Regions from separate parts of the Homo sapiens genome. Here regions 1, 3, 4 and 5 are each reported to be linked to region 2. Evidence: microRNA targets listed by miRTarBase, many of them from high-throughput screens and not tested one by one. Region 2 holds a microRNA gene; each other region holds the end of a gene's coding sequence.

What was found. The annotated mature microRNA hsa-miR-6744-5p reads UGGAUGACAGUGGAGGCCU and lies in region 2 at 1,972-1,990, opposite strand. An mRNA with a match to its seed (bases 2 to 7 or 8) in the 3' UTR can be bound and repressed. Matches are read on the target gene's strand: a 7mer-m8 pairs with bases 2 to 8, a 7mer-A1 pairs with bases 2 to 7 and ends in A, and an 8mer does both.
Region 1: miRTarBase lists TPI1 as a target of hsa-miR-6744-5p. Seed matches in the 3' UTR shown: 7mer-A1 at 1,805-1,811.
Region 3: miRTarBase lists MRPL18 as a target of hsa-miR-6744-5p. Seed matches in the 3' UTR shown: 7mer-m8 at 3,252-3,258.
Region 4: the mRNA of CRKL is a reported target of hsa-miR-6744-5p. Seed matches in the 3' UTR shown: 7mer-A1 at 947-953.
Region 5: the mRNA of BLTP2 is a reported target of hsa-miR-6744-5p. The part of its 3' UTR that is shown has no 7-base or 8-base seed match.

What each region holds. Positions count from the first base shown.
Region 1 is chr12:6,868,698-6,873,159 of GRCh38, forward strand. It overlaps TPI1 (triosephosphate isomerase 1), which reads left to right. Exons shown (of 7, transcript NM_000365.6): 2 at 167-290; 3 at 402-486; 4 at 561-693; 5 at 991-1,076; 6 at 1,352-1,439; 7 at 1,568-2,251. The coding sequence ends at 1,686. SPSB2 (splA/ryanodine receptor domain and SOCS box containing 2) reads right to left here. Exons shown (of 3, transcript NM_032641.4): 2 at 3,541-4,300; 3 at 2,238-2,622. The coding sequence starts at 4,204. The coding sequence ends at 2,495. Among named protein-coding and RNA genes, the nearest start is that of SPSB2, 2.4 kb to the right of the region's middle. RefSeq lists enhancers at 2,024-2,609, 3,936-4,175 and a silencer at 3,266-3,385.
Region 2 is chr11:1,254,076-1,258,599 of GRCh38, reverse strand. MIR6744 (microRNA 6744) reads right to left here and starts at 1,995; the gene lies at 1,930-1,995. It overlaps MUC5B (mucin 5B, oligomeric mucus/gel-forming), which reads right to left. Exons shown (of 49, transcript NM_002458.3): 34 at 4,249-4,508; 35 at 3,720-3,906; 36 at 3,334-3,559; 37 at 3,042-3,217; 38 at 2,375-2,444; 39 at 1,829-1,929; 40 at 1,329-1,360; 41 at 890-1,070; 42 at 397-501; 43 at 233-270.
Region 3 is chr6:159,796,997-159,801,520 of GRCh38, reverse strand. MRPL18 (mitochondrial ribosomal protein L18) reads right to left here. Exons shown (of 4, transcript NM_014161.5): 3 at 4,003-4,234; 4 at 3,092-3,469. The coding sequence ends at 3,398. It overlaps PNLDC1 (PARN like ribonuclease domain containing exonuclease 1), which reads right to left and starts at 1,245. Exons shown (of 19, transcript NM_001271862.2): 1 at 1,138-1,245; 2 at 692-749; 3 at 335-408. The coding sequence starts at 1,213.
Region 4 is chr22:20,949,421-20,952,420 of GRCh38, reverse strand. CRKL (CRK like proto-oncogene, adaptor protein) reads right to left here. Exons shown (of 3, transcript NM_005207.4): 3 at 1-2,710. The coding sequence ends at 2,576. Among named protein-coding and RNA genes, the nearest start is that of LINC01637, 6.2 kb to the left of the region's middle. RefSeq lists enhancers at 1-400, 401-902.
Region 5 is chr17:28,611,565-28,616,088 of GRCh38, reverse strand. BLTP2 (bridge-like lipid transfer protein family member 2) reads left to right here. Exons shown (of 39, transcript NM_014680.5): 38 at 291-425; 39 at 843-1,643. The coding sequence ends at 1,025. It overlaps RSKR (ribosomal protein S6 kinase related), which reads left to right and starts at 1,904. Exons shown (of 12, transcript NM_001174103.2): 1 at 1,904-2,002; 2 at 2,401-2,649; 3 at 2,744-2,827; 4 at 2,943-3,011; 5 at 3,402-3,471; 6 at 3,723-3,827; 7 at 4,005-4,045; 8 at 4,294-4,321; 9 at 4,433-4,522. The coding sequence starts at 1,928. All of the region lies in intron 2 of SPAG5-AS1 (SPAG5 antisense RNA 1), which reads right to left. RefSeq lists an enhancer at 3,540-4,524.

The DNA.
Region 1 (4,462 bases), not on the chromosome of region 2:
CTGGGCTGGAAAATGGACAAAGGTCATCTTGCTGGGGTGAAAAGGGGGAGAGCAGAACCAAGAAGAAGAGGGTGAGGGCTGGGGGGCTCCAGGGCACTGGTTAGGAATTGTGGGGAATGAAGGCTTTCTTTAGTCTCATCCCCCTGTGGTACCATCTTGTCCTCAGAGGTGGTTTGTGCTCCCCCTACTGCCTATATCGACTTCGCCCGGCAGAAGCTAGATCCCAAGATTGCTGTGGCTGCGCAGAACTGCTACAAAGTGACTAATGGGGCTTTTACTGGGGAGATCAGGTGAGATCGAGGTGGAGAGGGGTGTGTGGGACCCTTCCCTCACTTTCCTCGTTGAGGGGAAAGCCACAGGGTGGGCTCCCTGCTGAACCTTGGCTTCATCTCTTCCTTTAGCCCTGGCATGATCAAAGACTGCGGAGCCACGTGGGTGGTCCTGGGGCACTCAGAGAGAAGGCATGTCTTTGGGGAGTCAGATGAGGTTAGTAGCCAAGAGAGAAGATAAGGGATGTCTTTTTCCAAGAAGGATGTCTCACCAAGTCTGTTTCTCAACAGCTGATTGGGCAGAAAGTGGCCCATGCTCTGGCAGAGGGACTCGGAGTAATCGCCTGCATTGGGGAGAAGCTAGATGAAAGGGAAGCTGGCATCACTGAGAAGGTTGTTTTCGAGCAGACAAAGGTCATCGCAGGTATCTCTGGAGAAAGGGACCTTTGAGCCTATCCAGGGCCACAGAGACTCAGAGGGTAGGGTCAGGCCCTGGAGCCTGTCTTGGTCCCCATGCTGATCCAGAAAAGGAAAAAGGGGAGGGGGAGTGACAATCTTTGCTTGGGGCCTATGACTTCTCCAGCCCCAAGGTAGATGCCACCTGGAAATCCCCCAATGTCCACTAGGGGGCAGTAGGCCACCGTTCTTCGTACTCCGGAGAACCTGGCTGGAGAGCTCTTTCTTGTTCACCCTTCCCTCCATCTGTATCTCTGCCCTGCAGATAACGTGAAGGACTGGAGCAAGGTCGTCCTGGCCTATGAGCCTGTGTGGGCCATTGGTACTGGCAAGACTGCAACACCCCAACAGGTAACCGGGCCCAGGAGCCCTGCCCTCATCCCAGCCTGCCTCAATAGGTTTGGACAGACACAGCCCACATGGGGCAACCCCTTATTTCAAAGACACAGAGACCTTGAACCCAGAGACAGTGACTTGTCCAAGGGCATCCAGTCCAGGGCCTGGCTTGGATCAGAGCCCTGGTACTCTGACTCAGTCAGAAACCACACTAAGTGTCCACTGGTGCCAGTGATTTTTCCTCTTAGAGAGGCAGAAAAGGTCTTACTTAGGCCAGCTTCTTGTTCTAGGCCCAGGAAGTACACGAGAAGCTCCGAGGATGGCTGAAGTCCAACGTCTCTGATGCGGTGGCTCAGAGCACCCGTATCATTTATGGAGGTGAGTGGCTTTGGTTCCCGGCTGAGGTGGAGTGGGCTGAGGACTAGACTGAGCCCTCGGACATGGAGGTGGGGATGGGGCAGACTCATCCCATTCTTGACCAAGCCCTTGTTCTGCTCCCTTCCCAGGCTCTGTGACTGGGGCAACCTGCAAGGAGCTGGCCAGCCAGCCTGATGTGGATGGCTTCCTTGTGGGTGGTGCTTCCCTCAAGCCCGAATTCGTGGACATCATCAATGCCAAACAATGAGCCCCATCCATCTTCCCTACCCTTCCTGCCAAGCCAGGGACTAAGCAGCCCAGAAGCCCAGTAACTGCCCTTTCCCTGCATATGCTTCTGATGGTGTCATCTGCTCCTTCCTGTGGCCTCATCCAAACTGTATCTTCCTTTACTGTTTATATCTTCACCCTGTAATGGTTGGGACCAGGCCAATCCCTTCTCCACTTACTATAATGGTTGGAACTAAACGTCACCAAGGTGGCTTCTCCTTGGCTGAGAGATGGAAGGCGTGGTGGGATTTGCTCCTGGGTTCCCTAGGCCCTAGTGAGGGCAGAAGAGAAACCATCCTCTCCCTTCTTACACCGTGAGGCCAAGATCCCCTCAGAAGGCAGGAGTGCTGCCCTCTCCCATGGTGCCCGTGCCTCTGTGCTGTGTATGTGAACCACCCATGTGAGGGAATAAACCTGGCACTAGGTCTTGTGGTTTGTCTGCCTTCACTGGACTTGCCCAGATAATCTTCCTTTTTGAGGCAGCTATATAAATGATCATTTGTGCAAGAAAAAAAAAAAAACAAGAACAGGTTTCTATAACAACATCTCTTACTATTTTTACTTGAAAAAATGTTTTGCGTAGCAGACTGTCATAGCCTTGAACGCCGGCTCCCTTTCTTCCTCCCTCCAAGTGGCTCTGGGGCTGTTGATTTCCGCAGAGCTTGGGTTGGGGTAGGGGCTCAGCCTCACCAGCTTTCAGCAGCTGGTCTAGGCCAGCAGTGCCTCCCCACCTCCCCAAGGGGAGGGGTGGTGGCAAGACCTCAGCACAGTCTGTGGTATCACAGGGCTCACTGGTAGAGCAGGTAGCGCTTCATGGCAGGGGGCAAGGGCAGGGCAGACACCTGGCCGAGCCGGGTATCCCCCAGGTTGTGGCGCACACACAGGCGGCTCAGGTGCAGAAGGGAGTGTGGCTCCGCTGGGAGAGAGAAGGAGGGGAATGTAAGTATGGGTGCAGCCACCAGCCAGATGTCCTCAAACTACGGGGTCCTACTCAGATGCCTTTCTGCTTTCCTGCTTCGAGTGTGCCCACCTGGCTGAAAGGGGAATTTGAGATACCCGGAAGTTCTGCCTCCCAGATAAGATTTCACACATCCCTAGTCAGAGCTGGGGGTGAAGAGCTGGCTAAGGCCCTCTAAACAACAGGCCAAGGTGGCTCTGACAGTGGTGGAGCTGGCCCAGGCTTTGACTCCAGAGGCTTGGGAGCTGGGGCTGAGGTGAGGAGGGATGGCCCTCCACTCTACAGCCCACACAACTGCAGAGAGCAGCTCCAAGCCCTGGACCCAGTCAGTTCCTGGGGAGGCTCCTCCCCTGCTGCCCCACCCTAAGGCCCTGCCTCCTCCACTGCTCTCCTCCCTGGTGCCCAGGGCCCCAGTGTCTCCATCCAGAGGTGTGGCTGAGGAAGGAAGTAGGTATGTGGCACAGAGACAGGTTAGAGCCCAGGGAATCCGGTATACAGCCTGGGTACCTGGCTCTGCCCATCCTTCTTTTGGACCTGTACATCAAACCCAGTACCTAACGCTTTGCACCTCTTGCTCAGGGGTTGATATCTCCTGAATTCTCTCATCCCTGCAGTTCCTCCCTCCATTCTGAAGGTTCACCATTTACTGGCCAAGAGAACTTGAGAAAGTTGCTTTCTCAAGCCTGTTTCACCTCTATTGCTGTTGGGTTAAATTAAATAACAGCTGTGAAGACCCCTAGCCTTTCCCAGCACTGAACAGAGGTTGAGGCAGGCTGGATGAAGGTCCATCCCCTCTGCTCTTGTCAGAAGAGTTTCCATCCCAAACCACTGCCACCAGGGACAGAAAGTTCTCCCCACGTCTGCCCCAGGCCTCACCTCTCCTTTCGCCCAGGTAGCGGATGCGGACCTGGCACTGGCCCCAGACAGCGCTTACTGCCGGATAGAGGGTCCTGCCCTTCAGTCCGCGGAATGCTGGCCCCAGGTAGGTGCCCCCAATAGCGTAGCCCAGAGTTCCCTCCTCCATGTCCAGAACCACCAGCAGTCTCTCTGGCACCTCCAGCTGCTCACCCTGAGTTCCCGCTGGATACTGGGGGGCTCCGGGCCCCTTGCTCTGATGGTACAGCTTCCCCCGCCCGATGTCCCAGCCCCACGACTCGCTGTTGCTGCCCAGCAGCGCCGCGTAGTGGTCAGTCTGCAGCGGGGCGAGGGCCGTGGCCACGCCCACCACGGCATGCGTGCCCCTCTGCTCTAGGGGCCAGCTGATCTCCCAGGCGTGCAGGCCCCTTGAATAGCCCCTCTTACCCCGGGCCCCATCAGTGCTCTGGGCCACGGGCCGCCGCTCAAAGTACAACCCTCCTTCCTTGACCTCGATGTTCTCTGAACAGTCTTTGGGGTTCCAACCGTGGCGCCGCTGGGCCCCCAGGTCAGGAGGGGGTGCAGACAGCAGCTCTTCCAAGCCCTCGGGACAGGAGAGGTCAGGGTACAGGGCCTGTGGCGTGGGGGTGCTGCTGCTGCCCCCTGCCAGAGCTGTCTGGCCCATGGAGGTGAGGAGCTAGAGGACTCCCCGAAAGAGGCTTGCTGGGGCGTCTTTCTCTTCTGAAAGTTGAGCTCCAGTTTGGATTGACCTGGAAGGGAGCTGGGAGAAAAGGGGCGTGAAGAGCAGAATCCTGGCGGGGGCTCGTCACCCAGGTACCCCATCCTTTCACCCAAGTTTGCCAACGGGCCCGCTCCTCCCTCCTCGCTGCCCCAAAGCTCCTGGGCCCTTCATCTGCCCTCGCCCCATCTGATCCAGGTCGCC
Region 2 (4,524 bases):
GGGAGCCCCTGAAGGGACCTCTCAGAGGCAGCAGTTGTGGAGCTCATGGCTGTCGACGTAAGGTGCCCCTGAGTCCCAAGCATGTCCCAGCTCTGACGTGTCCAGGGCCCCTGTGCGGATCGGCCCTCAGGGCAGGAATGTCAAGACAAGGAGTGGGGCTCAGAGAGCCCCGGGGCATCCCACACACATGTTCAGGCCCCAGGGCCACACCCACCCACTGCTGTGCCCTTACCCCGTAGAAGGTGCCATTGTACGAACACAGCTGAGGTCCTGGAAGGAAAGGGAGCTAAGCCCTCGACAAGTGGTGGGGAGCATGTGCTCCAGCGCCCCCACCATCCTGCACTCCCCCACCCCCAGCAAGAGGCCACCCAGGAGCCCGGCCCCAGCCCCGCTCACTGCAGCGGAAGGTGGGACAGCAGTCGCCCTCCTCCTGGGTGCAGATGGACTCCTGCCCTGGCGGGCACACAGGCAGGCTCTGGGGGCAGGTGGTTGTGTTGCACACTGCGGGAGGATGGAGGCCACTGTCTGGGCGCTGCTCACTCCTCCTCCCGACCACTTGTTCCCAGAGTAAGTCGCAGGCGTGCTTTTCCCCGAGGACCTGACCGCTTCACAGCCCCTGGGGGCTCCCTCCAGGCCCCTTGCTTGGCCACCTCCCCGCTGCTTCCCACGTCCCTGGGCCACTCCTGGGCAGGCCAGAGGTCACCAGCCTCATCGTTAGGAGGAGAATGAAGCACCTGGAGGCCATCTCTGCCGAGTGGTCCTGCCGCGGTCACGCCAGGACACAGTGGCTCTCCTCTGCTCTCCTGTGCCCAACCCACAGGCCCCTGGTGGGCACCGGCTCTGTCCCCCCTCACCCTATGCCGGGCACCTCTGCTCTGCAGCGTCTTACCGCACACCGTCTCGGGGCAGCAGGGGTTCTCGGCCCGGGGCCTGGTCACGGTTACGAAGCCGGGACGGTTGCACGGCGGGGGCTGACCCTGGGCGTCACAGGGCAGGGGCTTGCACTGCACCGACACTGAACCCTCGTCACACACGCAGGACTGGCAGTTGCTGACCCACCGCTCCCCGGGCTGGAATGGATCAAGGGGGTCCCTGAGGGCTCCTGGACAGACACAGGTCAACCCTGGGCATCTGTCCAGCCACCCCCTCCCTCGGGCTGGTACCCGAGTGGCCCAGAGTGATGGGGCAGGAAGCGCACACCAGCCACTGGCACGTCCACGTCACACTCGGGCGCCCCACAGCTGCCCTGTGGGATGGGGATGCTCCTTCCCTCCCTCCCTCAGCTCGCGAGAGGGTGGGGTAGGGCAGGTGGGGGTGGAGCCACTCACAAATTTAGGAAACCCATCGGGTCCCACGCAGGCTGGAAAGAAAACAGCATGGCATCACGGAGGGTGCTGAGTTTGCAGGCGGAGGGGCCTCTGGCCATGGGAGGTGCTCTCAGGCCTGGAGCCTGCTTCCCCCCGGGATGGAAGGCCCTGGAGAACTTTTGGGGTGTCAGATGTGGCTGGAGCTCAGGCCAGGGCACCGTGAGCCCAGCTGTCAGTGCATGGAAGCCTCGTCCATGGTGGTGGGAGGCAGGGCTCAGGGGAGGGACCATCACAGGATCACTCAAGGACAGAGCCTCCCTGTGGGGCTTCAGGGGACCGTGGGGGCTCTGCAGGGTTCAGGGCCACTCTGGGGCCATCCCATGCTCTGGTGGGGCAGAACAGGTCACGGGGGTCAGCTGGGGAGAGGGGAGAGCACATCATGGTCCTGGGCGGCTCCTCCCACCCTGTGTGTGCTTGGGTCGGGCCCAGGGTCGTATCCCGCCACAGGTGGCGGAGCTTACGGCAGGCCTGCACGCAGATGCCCATGTGTGCGTTGAAGAGGATCTGGTCCTCAGGGCAGAAGCAGCCCTCCGCCATCCCCTCCAGCTGTGGGCTCTGGTTCCTGCAGGATGACAAGAGAGGCCCTGAGACCTAGAGATCCAGGAGGCCTCCACTGTCATCCACGTGAGTCCCCAGGATGGGCAGTGGGGAGCAGGGAAGGAGATGAATGGGTGGAGTGCGGGGCTCAGGGTGGGCGGGGCTGGGGGCGGGGACGGGTGGGGCTGGGGTGGGGGTGGGCGGGGCTAAGTATGGGCGGGGATGGGTGGGGCTCGGTGGCGGGGCCAGGTGGGGATGCGGGGCCAGGCGTGGCCAGGGATGCGCCCCCTGCCTGACTCTGTCTCTAAGGCATCTGGGAGCAGCAGGGGATGTTTTCCAAGGAGTCCTGGGCTCGGGCACCCCAGAGATCTGTGGCCCACAGTGGGACACCCTCTGGCCTCCTCCTGCTCCCCCAGACCGGTCAGGCAGGCCTGGGTGGCAGGGAAGGCACCAGCCATCCCTGTACTTACCTAGAGTTGCAGGTGGCAGGCTGTATGGGGCCGCATGGCTTGTACACTTTGGTGGGTGGGCAGGTGAGGTCTGTGGGCACAGAGAGGTGTCAGACAAGCCAAGGGGTTGGGGGGGCCCAGGGCCGCCCCCAATCACCGCACAGGACACTCAGAGAGGCCGAGGAGTCTGGGGGGCCCGGGGCCGCCCCCACTCACCGCACAGGACACTCAGAGAGGCCGAGGGGTCTGGGGGGCCCGGGGCCGCCCCCACTCACCGCACAGGACACTCAGAGAGGCCGAGGGGTCTGGGGGGCCCGGGGCCGCCCCCACTCACCGCACAGGACACTCAGAGAGGCCGAGGGGTCTGGGGGGCCCGGGGCCGCCCCCACTCACCGCACAGGACACTCAGAGAGGCCGAGGGGTCTGGGGGGCCCGGGGCCGCCCCCACTCACCGCACAGGACACTCAGAGAGGCCGAGGGGTCTGGGGGGCCCGGGGCCGCCCCCACTCACCGCACAGGACACTCAGAGAGGCCGAGGGGTCTGGGGGGCCCGGGGCCGCCCCCACTCACCGCACAGGACACTCAGAGAGGCCGAGGGGTCTGGGGGGCCCGGGGCCGCCCCCACTCACCGCACAGGACACTCAGAGAGGCCGAGGGGTCTGGGGGGCCCGGGGCCGCCCCCACTCACCGCACAGGCCACCGGTTGCACCTCGCCAGTCACTGCACACTCCCCGGGCGCGGCAGAGCTCTGCGTAAGCCTCCAGGCTCTGGCAGGGCACCTCAAGGCGGCCCCTGCAGTGGTCGCTGATGCAGGCGTTGAAGAATGGGCCCGGGGGCACAAGGTTGTGGCACTCAGCAAAGACCCTGTGGGGCAAAGCGATCAGGACGGAGGGCCCCCAGCCCCAGGGAGCTGCGTGCGTGCGTGCATGCGGGCGGGCGGGGGCGCCCCAGGGCCTGCAACCCCCGAGGGGAGGACTCACTGGCTCAGCATCAGATCACAGAGCGGCTGTGGTGGGCATGGGGTGGGGGTGGGTGTGCTAGACACCGGGGCTGCGGGGCTGGCAGTGGGGGGTGTGCCAGTCGGGGCCCAGCAGCCATCCTTTCTGCTGTCGGGGACCAGCCACGTCTTGGCCATGTCCTTGCAACTGGCGGCAGTGGTTCCGTCCCGCTGGAGACAGTCGTCCCTCTGGTTGTTGGTGCAGGTGCCTGGGAGTGGGGGCGTCACCGCGGGGCTGGAATCTGGGGAGCCTTTCACAGCCCCCACCCCCCTCCCCCACTCATTCCCCTCCCCAGGCTTCCCCTATGCTCACTGGGTTGTCAGGCCCAGCAGCAGCCCTGGCCGGGGCAGGACCCGCCGCCCACTCACCGCACTGGCCCTCGGTGTTGTTGTGGAAGAGGCTGTAGGGCAGCCGGGCCTGGAAGACTTGGCCATTGAAGGTGACGCTCACGCCCAGGGCAGGAATGTCCACACGCATGGTGGTGGTCCCCAGCACAGACACAAGCACGCCGTTCTTGCTGAAACCGCTGCTCACCGGAATTTGGTCAAACAGGATCTGGGGGAATCCAGGGGAACCCTGAGCTGGGAGGCAGTGCCAGGTGGGCTCGGGGAGCAGGGCTTCTCTTTGGGGCTCTGCCTCCATGTGCAGAGACCCCCCTGTGTATCCCCCACCCCAAAGCCCAGATCTTCCCTGGGGGCCTGGAGTCTCCAGCTGGCTGCATTTAGGCCACAGGGTGCGCTCGGCCTTAGGCGGCTCCACAGGCCTTCCCTGCCCCCTGGGAGCTGTCTTGGGCACTGGGCCATCGCTGCGGCACCTGGGTCACCCCGGCCTGCAGTCGGCCTGCCCAGGTGCGGTTGGGACTGGGCCAACACTGTGCCACCCGCAGCCTGGACTCACCAGGCCCTCCTCCTTCCCATGCACCATGGTGACAGTGAGGACGATATCCATGGACTTGTAGTGGATGCTGAGGGCGCGGGGGCAGCGGGCGGCAGCGGCAGTGGCAGAGGCCGTGCAGTAGTGGTTGTCCAGGTAGAGGCTGAGATTCCCAAAGCGTGCATGGATCTCTCTCATGAGGACATAGGTGCAGTTGCCCCGGAAGGTGTAAGAGGTGCCGTCAAAGGTGGAATAGTGGGAGCCGCCCCACATGCTGCAGATGCCTGCGGGACAGAGATG
Region 3 (4,524 bases), not on the chromosome of region 2:
GAGCTAAGACTATGCTACTGCACTCCAGTCTTGGTGACAGAGCAAGACCCTGTCTCAAAAAATAAAATAAAAATCGCACACACACAGTTTTACTTGAAAGAGTAACAGTGAGTGTTCCTTAATACTGACTTATTTAAGCACGGAAACAATGCTGCTAAATTTGGTTTGCTCCGAAGTGTTGATTTCCATATGTATACAATGGCCCAACACAAAACAAGCATACAAAACGATACTCAATATCCTTGAAAAATCTCAGAGCTGTTTTTACAGTAGGAAATCCAAGGACAATAAAAATACCTTCTTGAAAAACTCTAACAGCTGATATTAAACTCACCAATCTGACAGACTGTAAATTGCTGAACACTCTGACGGGTCTTTAGATACCACTCCGATGGCAAATCAAAAAGACTGTGAACAAACAGGCATCTCATTCCACGAGCAATGACATCCCATCCCGGCACTATGGCCTCCGCGGCAGGACCACCACTCGCAACCGGGGAGGATTTTTTCCTTGTTACAACAACTAGGGAGCACTACCATCATTTAGTGGACAGAAAAAAGCAAGGTCCTCCAACACGTAGGAGCAAGCCACACAAAACGTCCTGCCCCCCAAATGCCAACAGGCTGCTGGCCAGAAACAGTGCTGGTCTGGCCAGGCTCTTATACAGAGGGGACACAGCTTTAGTTTTACCTGATCTGCTGGGGCCCAGACAGGTTAGAACGAAGGCCCGTGAACTCTATGTCCAGACCTGCCAGGAAGGCAAAAAATAGCAGTCCTCGGGTGCAGAACATCGCCAGCACTCCTCACACTGTAGATCTGCAGGCGGCCAAGGCACCCGCGCTCACCTCTGCGCTCAAGAAGCCAAGTGAGGTCAGGAAGGGAAAATGGAGGAACCAAGGCAAGGAGCAGCCAGGCACCTGGGCGCACGGGGCTCTGGCCAACAAGGGACGTGGGGCTCGGAGTGTACTTGCTGCTCAAAGTCCCACCGCCCCGGGGCTGGAGAAGGAAGCCCCCCTGTCCTTCCCGAGGCCCTCTCTGAGGCCCTGTGGCCTGGCAACCGTCCCGCCACCCCCTCCTCAAGCTCGCCCGGGGCAAGGGGCTCTGTCCGGCACAGCCGCGAATCCCAGGCTCTTCACCCACGAAGTCGGCCTCCTGGACGAGCTCCTGCAGCAGAGGGAGGCTCTCCTCGAACTCGTCGGCGCCCACGTCCATGGCCGTGCAGCTCCGCGGAGTCGCCCAGCGCTATCACGTGCTGCCCACGTGCTGCCCACGCGCTTCCGTCGCGCCGCCGGGTCTTAAAGGGCGCACACATGGAAACCAGGCAGCTGCCTCCGCCCCACGTGCCCAGCTTCCCCGTGTGCTGCTGGCGTCGCCCACACCTGCCTGCGGGTGTTTTAATTGTACGATTTGCTACAGAGGTTTGATTGCAATTGCAATCAAAGCCTGTTTACCTGGCTCCTCAGCAATTTCTTTGCAGCCCTTAACGTGAGAATGTCATTTACATGGACTTAGAATGTTAAGAGGCGTGGCAGGAGACGAAGACAGAGTCCAGAAAGGGTGAAATCAGAAAAGCGGAGCAGGAACAACACCGGACGCAACTGCAATAAGCAGATCCTTTGCTGCGGCTCACGGTCTTCTAAATCACCTCTTCCCAACTTCTCCATCACTGCCAGTATGTCTGTCCCCATTCCCTCTCCCACGCCCCTGGACATCTTTTTCCTCATTCTGCTGTCCACCTTACCACTGTCTTCACACCTGCAATCAAACTTTGCAAAGCCTCAAGAACTGCCCATTAAATTGAAGGAATCCTTGGTCCCCAGGGATTATCTCGTGCACTCACTCCTTGCGGAAATCCCTACCTACATCATCACATACATGTGAGCTTAATTTTTACTTTTGTTACTGTTTCCAGTGCAACTAGTCCATGGTCTTCCTTACAGTGTCCTCCCTTGAATTCTAGGCTTCTACTTGAACAGCGTTTTGGAACTATGGTCCTCAAAGTGAGGTGCTCAAATCAATCTTTAAGGTTAGCGGAGAAAACATTACCGTTATACTTTATTTTTTCCTTTTGAGACAGTCTCACTCTGTCACCCAGGCTGGAGTGCAGTGGTGCCATCTCGGCTCTCTGCAATCTCCACCTCCTGAGTTCAAGCGATTCTCCCGCCTCAGCCTCTGAACAGCTGGGATTACAGGCATGCACCACCACGCCCAACTCATTTTTGTTTTTAGTAGAGATAGGGTTAAACCGTATTGGCCAGGCTGGTCTCGAATTCCTGGCCTCAAGTGATCCACCTGCTTCAGCCTCCTAAAGTGGTGGGATTAGAGGTGTGAGGCACTGCATCCGATCTTCAATTATACTTTTAAATGCCTCTCCGGGACATTAATTAAGCAAAAGGGGACTATTAAGCCATTTGATTCTGAAGACCTCTCAGAACAAATCATACTTCATACAGATGTGTTCCATTTAAAATAACACATTGAATACTCAAATTGGCAGAAGTAACATATTTCACTTCTAAACAAACATTTAATTGGGGTATACATTAAAAAAACTGGAAAACAATGCTCTAGAAGCCACCTTAACTGCCTACAGGTTTTTTCTCACATTTATCAAATAGCCAAAAATTAACACCTTAATCAGCTCCTTTCAGAGAACTGCCATGATTCCCATCTACCCAAGCTCAAATTTTAGATTAACTTGCATGCATTTCAAGTTTCATCTCCTATCTAATAAAATGTTCACTTCATGGCAAATTGAGCGCCCACTAACCCCAACCATTTCCACCTCTGCTTTCAGCTCCTGATGCCACCTCCTTCCTCTTTCAAATTTGTTTCTCTTACTGTTGGGAACCAAGAGTCCAAGTGAGGTTGGCATTTGGTCCTTTCATTTTCACATACTGACTGTTCTATAGTATTAGATTGATACTGACATTTCCTATTTTAAAAAACAACCCACACTCCGAGCAGCAAACAACTGTCATTCACTGAGATCACTCGCCATGAACTAGACACAGTAATAAGTGCTTTACATCAACCTCATATGTGCTCCACTGCCACAGTGAGCTCAGACAATGTCATATAACCAGAAAATAAGAGTTCATAATATGCCTTTATTTTGTAATTTATAAACAACTTCTGACTTGCCCTTTGAAAGTTAATTATAATTGATGACTGCTTTTCTTAGATGCTTCTGAAGCCCAAGAGAGGGGCAGAACGTAGTTCTTGATTTAAAAAAACAGAAAGGGGAGGAGGATGACCTTAACTACAAATAATATTCCACTGCAACATTATTGCTGTAAAACTTCCAAGCTGGCTGTTCTTCCAGATGCTCTCTTTTGATGGCTGTAGTGGCTGACAGATTTATATTTACATGTTCAAAACAATTAATGCTTCCATTTATTCATAGATTCTCTGAGGTTCCCGTAGAACCACACCACCTTCTGTCATGGCACTTTGTAGTCGTTTCATCTGGTTTTGAAAATCAGAAAAAAAAGGAAAAGATTAAGTCAGCAGCACGAGTAGGCTGAAAATACTTTCACCTTCCAAAAGACAGAAATAAATTGATTTGTTCTTGCTAACTTCCCAGCCTACAACGGTTTTTCAGAAAGTGATCTTAATAATGATGTAAGTAAAAAGGAAATGTAGAGATGTCAAGGTTCAGCAGCATTTCAAAATATTATATGGACAAGATGTCAATATATGAACAGGAAATACAGTGGCTGACATCATGGACTACAGAATCAGTCACCCTGGGTTTGAAATCCACCATACACTGACTCTGGGCAAGTAAGCCTCAGTTTATTTCTGTATAGAATGAGAGTACTAGTCCCTACCCTATGGACTGATGTGAGGATTAAATGAAGTAACACTGTTGAGTACTCACCAAAGGGTCTGACACATGGAAAGTATTTGGTAAGTAAAAACTGTTATTATTATGTAAGTTATCTAATGCCAAGAATTAACACAATACCTTTTCAATAAGTACATGAAAACAAAAATACCGAGTCTGAGGCTGCCTCCCACGGGGTTGGTTGGTAGACCATGAAGTTGATTCCCGCCTCTAAGCATCTCTGTGCCAGCACTCGTCCTATACTCTCACAAGCCACCACATTTCTGGTACTATAAAGGTGCTTTTTAATAGCCCACTCACGAGTGGAGGCCGAAACCACAACCTTGCCATTCTGATGCTCCACAAGTGCTTCTACATGATGCTGAGTCCTTATAACTCGCAACCTAAATGGGGTGAGAAGATAATAAAATCACAGAAGAATCTGTATCCTAAAGTTACATTAATTGAGGTGAATAAATGACTAAATATTTTTCAACAATCCAGTGTTTGGTTCATTTACTTCAACATATTTAACTTGGATTTTGCTTGGGAAAAGTATTTTTCCTCCGCCTTTATGAGAATATCCTCAATAATAACAAACTAAATAGTTCAAGTATCATGAAGAAATTTGTTTCTGAAGAGCTGAGTTTTATTTACAGATCTACTTCAAAAAGAGATTTGAAGAGACAGAGCT
Region 4 (3,000 bases), not on the chromosome of region 2:
GAGCTCTGAATCTCCTGGCAGCCCTGGATGCCATTTTCATGGGCTGAAGTAACGAGCTGATTAATTATAAAACCAAACCACAGGTATACTCTAGGTATATCTGATTCTGAAGTGCGCCACACAAGGTGAGTCGGGGTATTGGTCAGTAGACAGGGCTGAAAGGAAACCTTGCTTTCCAAAATGGCCAGACTTCTTGCACTCTGAGTCAACTGCTGTAATTCAAAGGTGTCAAGCCCTTCAGCTAAATCTGGTTGAAAAAGGCCTAAGGGTCGTGCCCTCCTTGAACAAGGCACACATTCCTCCCTCTGTTGGAAACTCCACTCATGGCTCAACATGGGCCGGGATGAACCACGTCACTGGCCAAAGGGCAAACACTGTTTCTAGGCAGAGTCTGGGGACTCTTGTGATATGTCTGCCACTTGTGGGTGCTACGCCAGGCCTGAACCCAAAATAAGCCAACCTGACACACCTAACCAGAAGCGGCAACTGCCGCAGACCGTGCAGAGCAGGAGGCGGTCACCGTTCTCACTGGCAAGGAAGGGCTAATCTCCAAGGCTTTTAGAGGAAAACCACAGATGGGAAGCCATGGCGATAGTTTTCCCAAATGACCATTAATTCTGTCTCAGGAACACTCTCAAGATTCATGAATACAGCAGTTATCTGCCTGATGGAATACTGATTTAAAGAAAAATTGAAAAATGGCTGTTCTGCTGGTTCTGTCTCCAGAATGCATTGCTCTAAATCTCAAAACCTAGGAACCTCCAGACAGGGCCACAGTCACAGCAGATGATCAGTAAATGAAAGCTACTCAGTAGGCTGCTGCTACATTTCTAGGTCTGCTGTGTTCACTATGAGCTGAGGCTTTTCTTTACCAGGGTCCACAAGGGAGAGCAGACTGAATTGCACAGGGTTCCCAGAATTCTAGTCTGCTATGTGCAGCAGATGATGGATGAACCACACGTATATACCAGTTGGCTTGTATGAACAGGCCTCTTTTAGCTAACAGGGAAATGCTTTAACATCAATACACTGATAAGTGGTTAATGATAAACTAGTTAATGGTCTCCCTAGTCACTAAAACACTAAGACATCAAATACATTAACGAATTTCCAGAGCTTGCATTTCCTTTGCTTGGGAGCATCACAGACACTTACTTAGACTGTGAGACCAGTATGAGCAGCACCAACTTTCTCTGGCAGCCTGACGAGATTGGGCCTGGGCACGGAGGTCTGGGCTTCAGTGAGTGGAGTTGAACGATTCATTAATGAGTCCAACGATTCTATGAACAACGCCACTTTTTAAGGAAGTTTAAGTCTGAACCTTAAAGGGGTACATTCACTGAAAAGCTGAACAGAAAACTGGCCAAGTGCCCTCCAACCCACTGCTCTTATCACTGGCAAAACAAGGTAAGCAAAGGTTTCCCTAAAGTACCCCCAACTCTGATGCTTTTTAAAACAAAGTAATCCAAGGGGCTGTGCACATAGCATGGCACACCACAACTGCATTATTTTGTGTGTTGTCTGCTACATGGCAAAACAAGGTACTACTGGCAACCAAGACAATAAAGGCCTCTGCTTCAGGGTTGTTCTTTTCAGATTCCTTTAGTTACAGCAGCTTCAGTTTAGAAGCTCAGAGGCATGAGTCATTCCTTGCACTATCATAAAAACCCAACCTGCTACTTAACCTGTTTAGAACACACAAGTCTAGGCCAGGCGCGGCGGCTCACGGCTGTAATCCCAGCACGTTGGGAGGCTGAAGGCGGGTGGATCACCTGAAGTCAGGAGTTTGAGACCAGCCTGGTCAACATGATGAAACCCCGTCTCTACTAAAAATACAAAAATTAGCTGGGCGTGGTGTGCGCGCCTGCAGTCCCAGCTACTTGGGAGGCTGAGGCAGGAGAATCGCTTGAACTCAGGAGGCGGAGACTGCAGGAAGGCGAGATTGCGCCACTGCACTCCAGCCTGGGTGATGCAGCGAGACACCGTCTCAAAAAAACAAAACAAAACAAACAAAACAAAACAAAAAAAAACCCCCACACAAGTCTAATTAATTAGTTTTCCAAAACCAAACCAAAACAAAAGAAAAAAAAAAGCCAGATTTTGGAGTTTTAGAACAGAATTCTCTCTTCCTTAAGGTTCACTTCCTGTTGTCCAAAGAAAAGCAAGATGGCAGCTAAGCCACTGCTTTGTGGAACAGCAAACATGCAGTATCTCGCCATGGCCTCAAGCTTTCTCTGGTGAACACAACAGAATCAGTCCCATGTACAAACGGGCAGCAATGAGAAGGAAGACCCTTTCCATGTCAACTTCTCTCCACTTGTGTGCTTCCATCAGTATTTCCAGTTTATGATCCAAAAGAACTCTAAAATCGGCTACTCTTTGACAATACGACTATGATACAAACATCAGGAGGCAGCCGCTGTGTGCATTCCAAATGTGTGTGCGACTGCCAGTCTGCAGAAAGCTGGACTTCGGCAATGCAGTGTGACTTGCCTATGAGAGAAAATGCTTTCCCACTTCAAAGGAGACTAGGACAGGCAGAACAACAAAGCAGCAGGAAACAGGGCAACAGCAATCACTCGTTTTCATCTGGGTTTTGAGGGTCAAAGATTTTGACGTGCGTAAAGGGGAAAAGCCCTTTGCGCCCGTTCACTTCGCCTTCCCACTGGCCATTTATATTCATCCTTGTGACTTTCACGATGTCACCAACCTGTATGGATGAAGAAGACAAAGTTAGCATTTCTCTGCAACAAGAAAAAGACAGTTTACATTAAATCACAAACACTACCTTATCCAAAGGGCCCATACATTATTATTTAGACACAGGGTCTCACTCTGTTAGCCATGCTGGAGTGTAGTGGTGAGATCCCTGCTCAATGTAACCTCTAACGCCTGGGCTCAAGTGATCCTTCCACCTCCACCTCTTGAATAGCTGTGACTACAGGCGTGCACCACCATGCACATTATTTTTTAATTTTTTATAGACGGGGTCTGTCGCCC
Region 5 (4,524 bases), not on the chromosome of region 2:
CCTCTCAAGCACTTTGTAGAACAGGGTGGGAAGGGAACCAGATAAGATCAGAGATTCTATACAGGGAGACAGCTAGGTTGTTTGTGATGCTGAGCTGTGGGTGATAAATCTGCTGTTCCCTCTGCTCCCCTCAAGAGTCAGCATCATTACGAGGCTGAGGTAAGGGGAAATCAGTATCTGTAGGTTACTATTGTAGGACTTGGCACTCAAGTGGCTGGCTGGGACTCAAAATGGCAGCTGATGTATTCCCCACCCCTCTTTTTTTCTTTCCCCTCCCCCTCCTCTTACAGGGTGAGAAGAACAGTGTGGACTGGGGTGACCTTAACCTGGTGCTGCCCTGTCTGGAGTACCACAACAACACATGGACATGGCTAGACTTTGCCATGGCTGTCAAAAGGGACAGCCGCAAAGCCCTGGTTGCCCAGGTATCCCGCCAGGGCTCATGGCTGTTTGGCTAATGGGGCTGGCAGGCAGATCCTCTTTTCAGGAGCCTTTCATTTTAGAATCCATGAATAAATATCCTTGGGAAGGGGCAGGTGCATGAAGTGAGTGGCTTCTATGCCTACCCTCTCCATGACCTCACTCAGATTATTAAATTCAGTGTTTACTGAGTGTTTCGTATAGCACCATTGATTTTAGGGAACTGAGAGCTAACACAACCTAAAGTTTAGAAGGGGTTATAATTAGACTGTAAGCTTCTTGAAAGCAGAGACCATTGTATGTGAATTGCCCCATTGTGCCTTGGATGTGTTTAATAAATCTTTATTGTCTTGGTTCATTTTGATTTATTCTGCCTGCCCACTAATATTTACATTTTCTTTTACTCCTCTCCAATCTGCCAGGTAATCAAAGAGAAGCTAAGGCTGAAGTCTGCAACAGGCTCTGAGGTCCGGGGAAAGCTAGAAACTAAATCGGACCTGAACATGCAACAGCAGGAAGAGGAGGAGAAAGCCCGGCTCCTCATTGGTTTAAGTGTGGGCGACAAGAACCCTGGCAAGAAGTCCATCTTTGGCAGGCGCAAATGATTTGGCGATTCGAGTGGCTGCAGTACAGGATCTGACTCTGGCTCAGGCTCCAGGGACTTGTGGGGTGGGAGGGGCTTCCCGTTATCCACGAGGATTTGTGGGTGTCAGAGCCCATAGGCATCACTCTTCAGCACCTGGTCTGTTCGCTGCAGGGCATGGTGGACAGTAATGCTGAGTTCTGTCTCACACTGATCAGGCTCAGGGCCAGAGAGGCAACAAGAGAGCAAGACCCAGGGAATGGGCCCAGGGCAGGACCCTATTCCCTTGGGGTCAAGTGAAAGGGTAGGGGGATAGTCCTGATCAAGTGTGATAAATTTTTATAGACATATATAAATATATATATATTATATATATATTTCTAAGTGTAACTGTCCTTCCTCTGTGCCAGGAAACGGGAGGGGGCTGATCCTCTGATCCTCACTCCACTGTCATGTTTGAAAGAGGTATTGGTGTTCTGGAGTGGGGGTCAACCCCTCCCCAGTCTCTGTGCTAAGTTCACTTGGGAGGATGGCAGTAGGAGCCAGGGCTGGCCATGGGTCCCCTACCCTTCCCCGTAGGATATACCCTGGAGAATGGCAAAATGATTTAAAGAGAAAAAAAAAGATATTTTAAATTTGATGCTCATTTTTGTGTGTGTGTGTTGAGTGCATGCATTCAATCTGTGTATTCCTCCCTCATCAACCCAGAACATCCTGCAGCTGCCACTCTGAGGGTGGCCCCTTCCTTCCTCTGCCCTGAAGCTGTATCACAGAAATTTCTAGTCCTAGTGTGACTCTGGCCCCATGCTGATGGGTTTCTGCAGACTGGAAGAGGCGGGGCTCGTGTCACGCAGCATCAGGGAGAGGAATTGCTTATATAACTGGGACAGCAGATTTAGCAGAGAGAGGAGGCAGAGGCTGGGAATGGGAGCAGTAAGCTGTCGGCAGGGGCAGCACACCCAGCAGGGGGAACACACCCGGGTGGCTGTCCCTCACAAGGTAGGCTGTGGGGCTCTGGCAGCCTACTGAGGGGAGGAGAGGGAGACATGGGCTTGAGTCCTGGGAAGTTCCTGGTTAGGAGCATGGAAGTGATTACCCAATGTGGGGGTGGGGCAGGGAGGCTGTACTATGAAAGCATCACAGCCCAATACTGAGGTGCAGGCTGTACTCTTAATGCGTCATGGTGAAAATGTCCAACAATTATTTTCCTAGAGGATTTGAATTGTGCCCAGGAAATCTGGGGCTTAGCACAAAGCAAGGGTAATGGGAATTTTGCCTCATGCTCAAAAATGTACCTCTAGGGGTTGAGACTTAAGGGGAGGGAGTGCCTAGTAAGATGGGTGGAACCTGCTATGCCTCAGGAGCAGAAAGTTTAGAGTGGCTCCCTTGGTTCTCAGCAGGGTGGCAACATCCGGGGTCCCTGGGCCCGAGGCTGGAAGAGCCTCTGGACAGGTTTGGGAACCATCAGGTCAGATCTGGAAGAACTCTGGGAACTACGGGGGCACCACTATCTGCACCAGGAATCCCTAAAGCCAGCCCCAGTACTGGTAGAGAAGCCTCTGCCAGAGTGGCCAGTGCCTCAGTTCATCAACCTCTTTCTACCAGAGTTTCCCATTAGGCCCATTAGGGGGCAGCAGCAGCTGAAGGTAAGTCAGTGGAATCCCTGAGTGGGGTCTCAGTCTTTGGGAGAAGTTAAAAATGACCAGTCTCAACTGGCCTGTTCTCCATTCCTCTGTACAGATTTTAGGCCTCGTGGCTAAAGGCTCCTTTGGAACTGTCCTCAAGGTGCTAGATTGCACCCAGAAAGCTGTATTTGCAGTGAAGGTAGGGGCGTAGATACCACATTAGTCTCTGTTTCCAATCTTGATTCCAGAGAGGTTGGGAGGAATAAACAATTCAATAGCACTATCTATGAGTCATCACTACTCTCCTTTTATAGGTGGTGCCCAAGGTAAAGGTCCTACAGAGGGATACCGTGAGGCAGTGCAAAGAGGAGGTTAGCATCCAGGTATGCACAGAGTCCTGGAAAGGATTGTGGGAAGAGCTAGGCCACAGGTAGGGAAAGTACCTTTCTTGCCCACCTTCTTTTCCTGGTTCTGCCTCATCCATCTGCTTCAGCCTAGTTTAACACTAAAGTAGATCCTGGGAAAAGTATCAGCTCTCAACACAGTTTTCCCATGTCCTACTAGGGAAATCTCTGAAGCATGTCCCAGTGTATTCCTTAGTATTTGCTGGTTCTAGGATTACCAGATAGTCAGTTCCAAATATTGAGTTCCTCTGAACTGAGAGGTGAGGCAGCAGTTCCCCCTCTGCACATCTGGGTAAAACCTGATTTCTCAGCTGCCTTTATTCTCAATGACCCTGTTCCTCCCTAACTTCCTGTTTTCTTTGTTCCTAGCGACAGATCAACCATCCCTTTGTACACAGCTTGGGGGACAGCTGGCAGGGAAAACGGCACCTTTTCATTAGTGAGTGACTGGACTCTCTCCTCATCCCCCAGGGTCTTTGTACCATGTTCCCCACCTGAGATTACCTCTTTGGCTTGTTCTGCCTTTGCTCTGTCCCCCTTCTCATGGCACCTCTCTGTCCCAAAGGGAGGGGAACAGCAGGTGGTATCAGTTTGGGCAGGAGGCCTACAATGCCTTGAGCCCAGGCATTGCAGCTCCCAAACATTGCCTAGACTTCTGGCAATGTATGTAGCTCCACACTGGCTTTGCAGTGTGTAGCTACTGCAGCACAGATCTGTACTCCCTTTGGTCGGCTGTTGGCTGCTTTCCTGAGGCTTCCATCCGTCTCTTTGCTGCCGAGTTGGTGCTGGTACTGTGTAAGTGAAACAGTGGTAAAGGAAATGGGGAGGGAAGATTTAAGTTCGGAAGAAGGAGAGTAAAAAATTAATATTAATAATGGAAGTTAAAGAATAGGATAGGGATGGGATGAGGGCTACTAGGGAAACTGGAAAGGACAGAAAAGCTGCAGCATACCCCATACTTGTTATCCACAGGTTATCTCCATGACTTGGGCATCATGCATCGAGATGTGAAGGTAGAGTTAAGTGCTTTTTTCCCTTTGTCTGAGAAAGAGTCTCAATAAGAAGTGCCAACAAGTCCAAGAAGTTAGGGAGCTGAGAACTGTAGACATTGGGGCCCCCATGGGTGCCAAGGATTTGGGGAAGGGCTCTCTGAGTATAGATTTGAGTGCTGAGTAGGGCATCACCTTCAGCTGGGGTGTATACATGATGAAAGAGAGTTGAAAGGAAGAGGAAGAATTACTTCTCACCTGTGATCTTTCAGATGGAGAATATTCTTCTAGATGAACGAGGTAAGTCTTTTTCCTTCCTTAGCCCCAGGATGAGAGGTACTTTGGTTTGGGAATAAATCATGGCTGATGATGGGTGGAACAGTGGTGCAGTTGCCTTACCTTCTTTCATAGGCCATCTGAAACTGACAGACTTTGGTCTGTCCCGCCACGTGCCCCAGGGAGCTCAAGCCTACACTATCTGTGGCACTCTTCAGTACATGGGT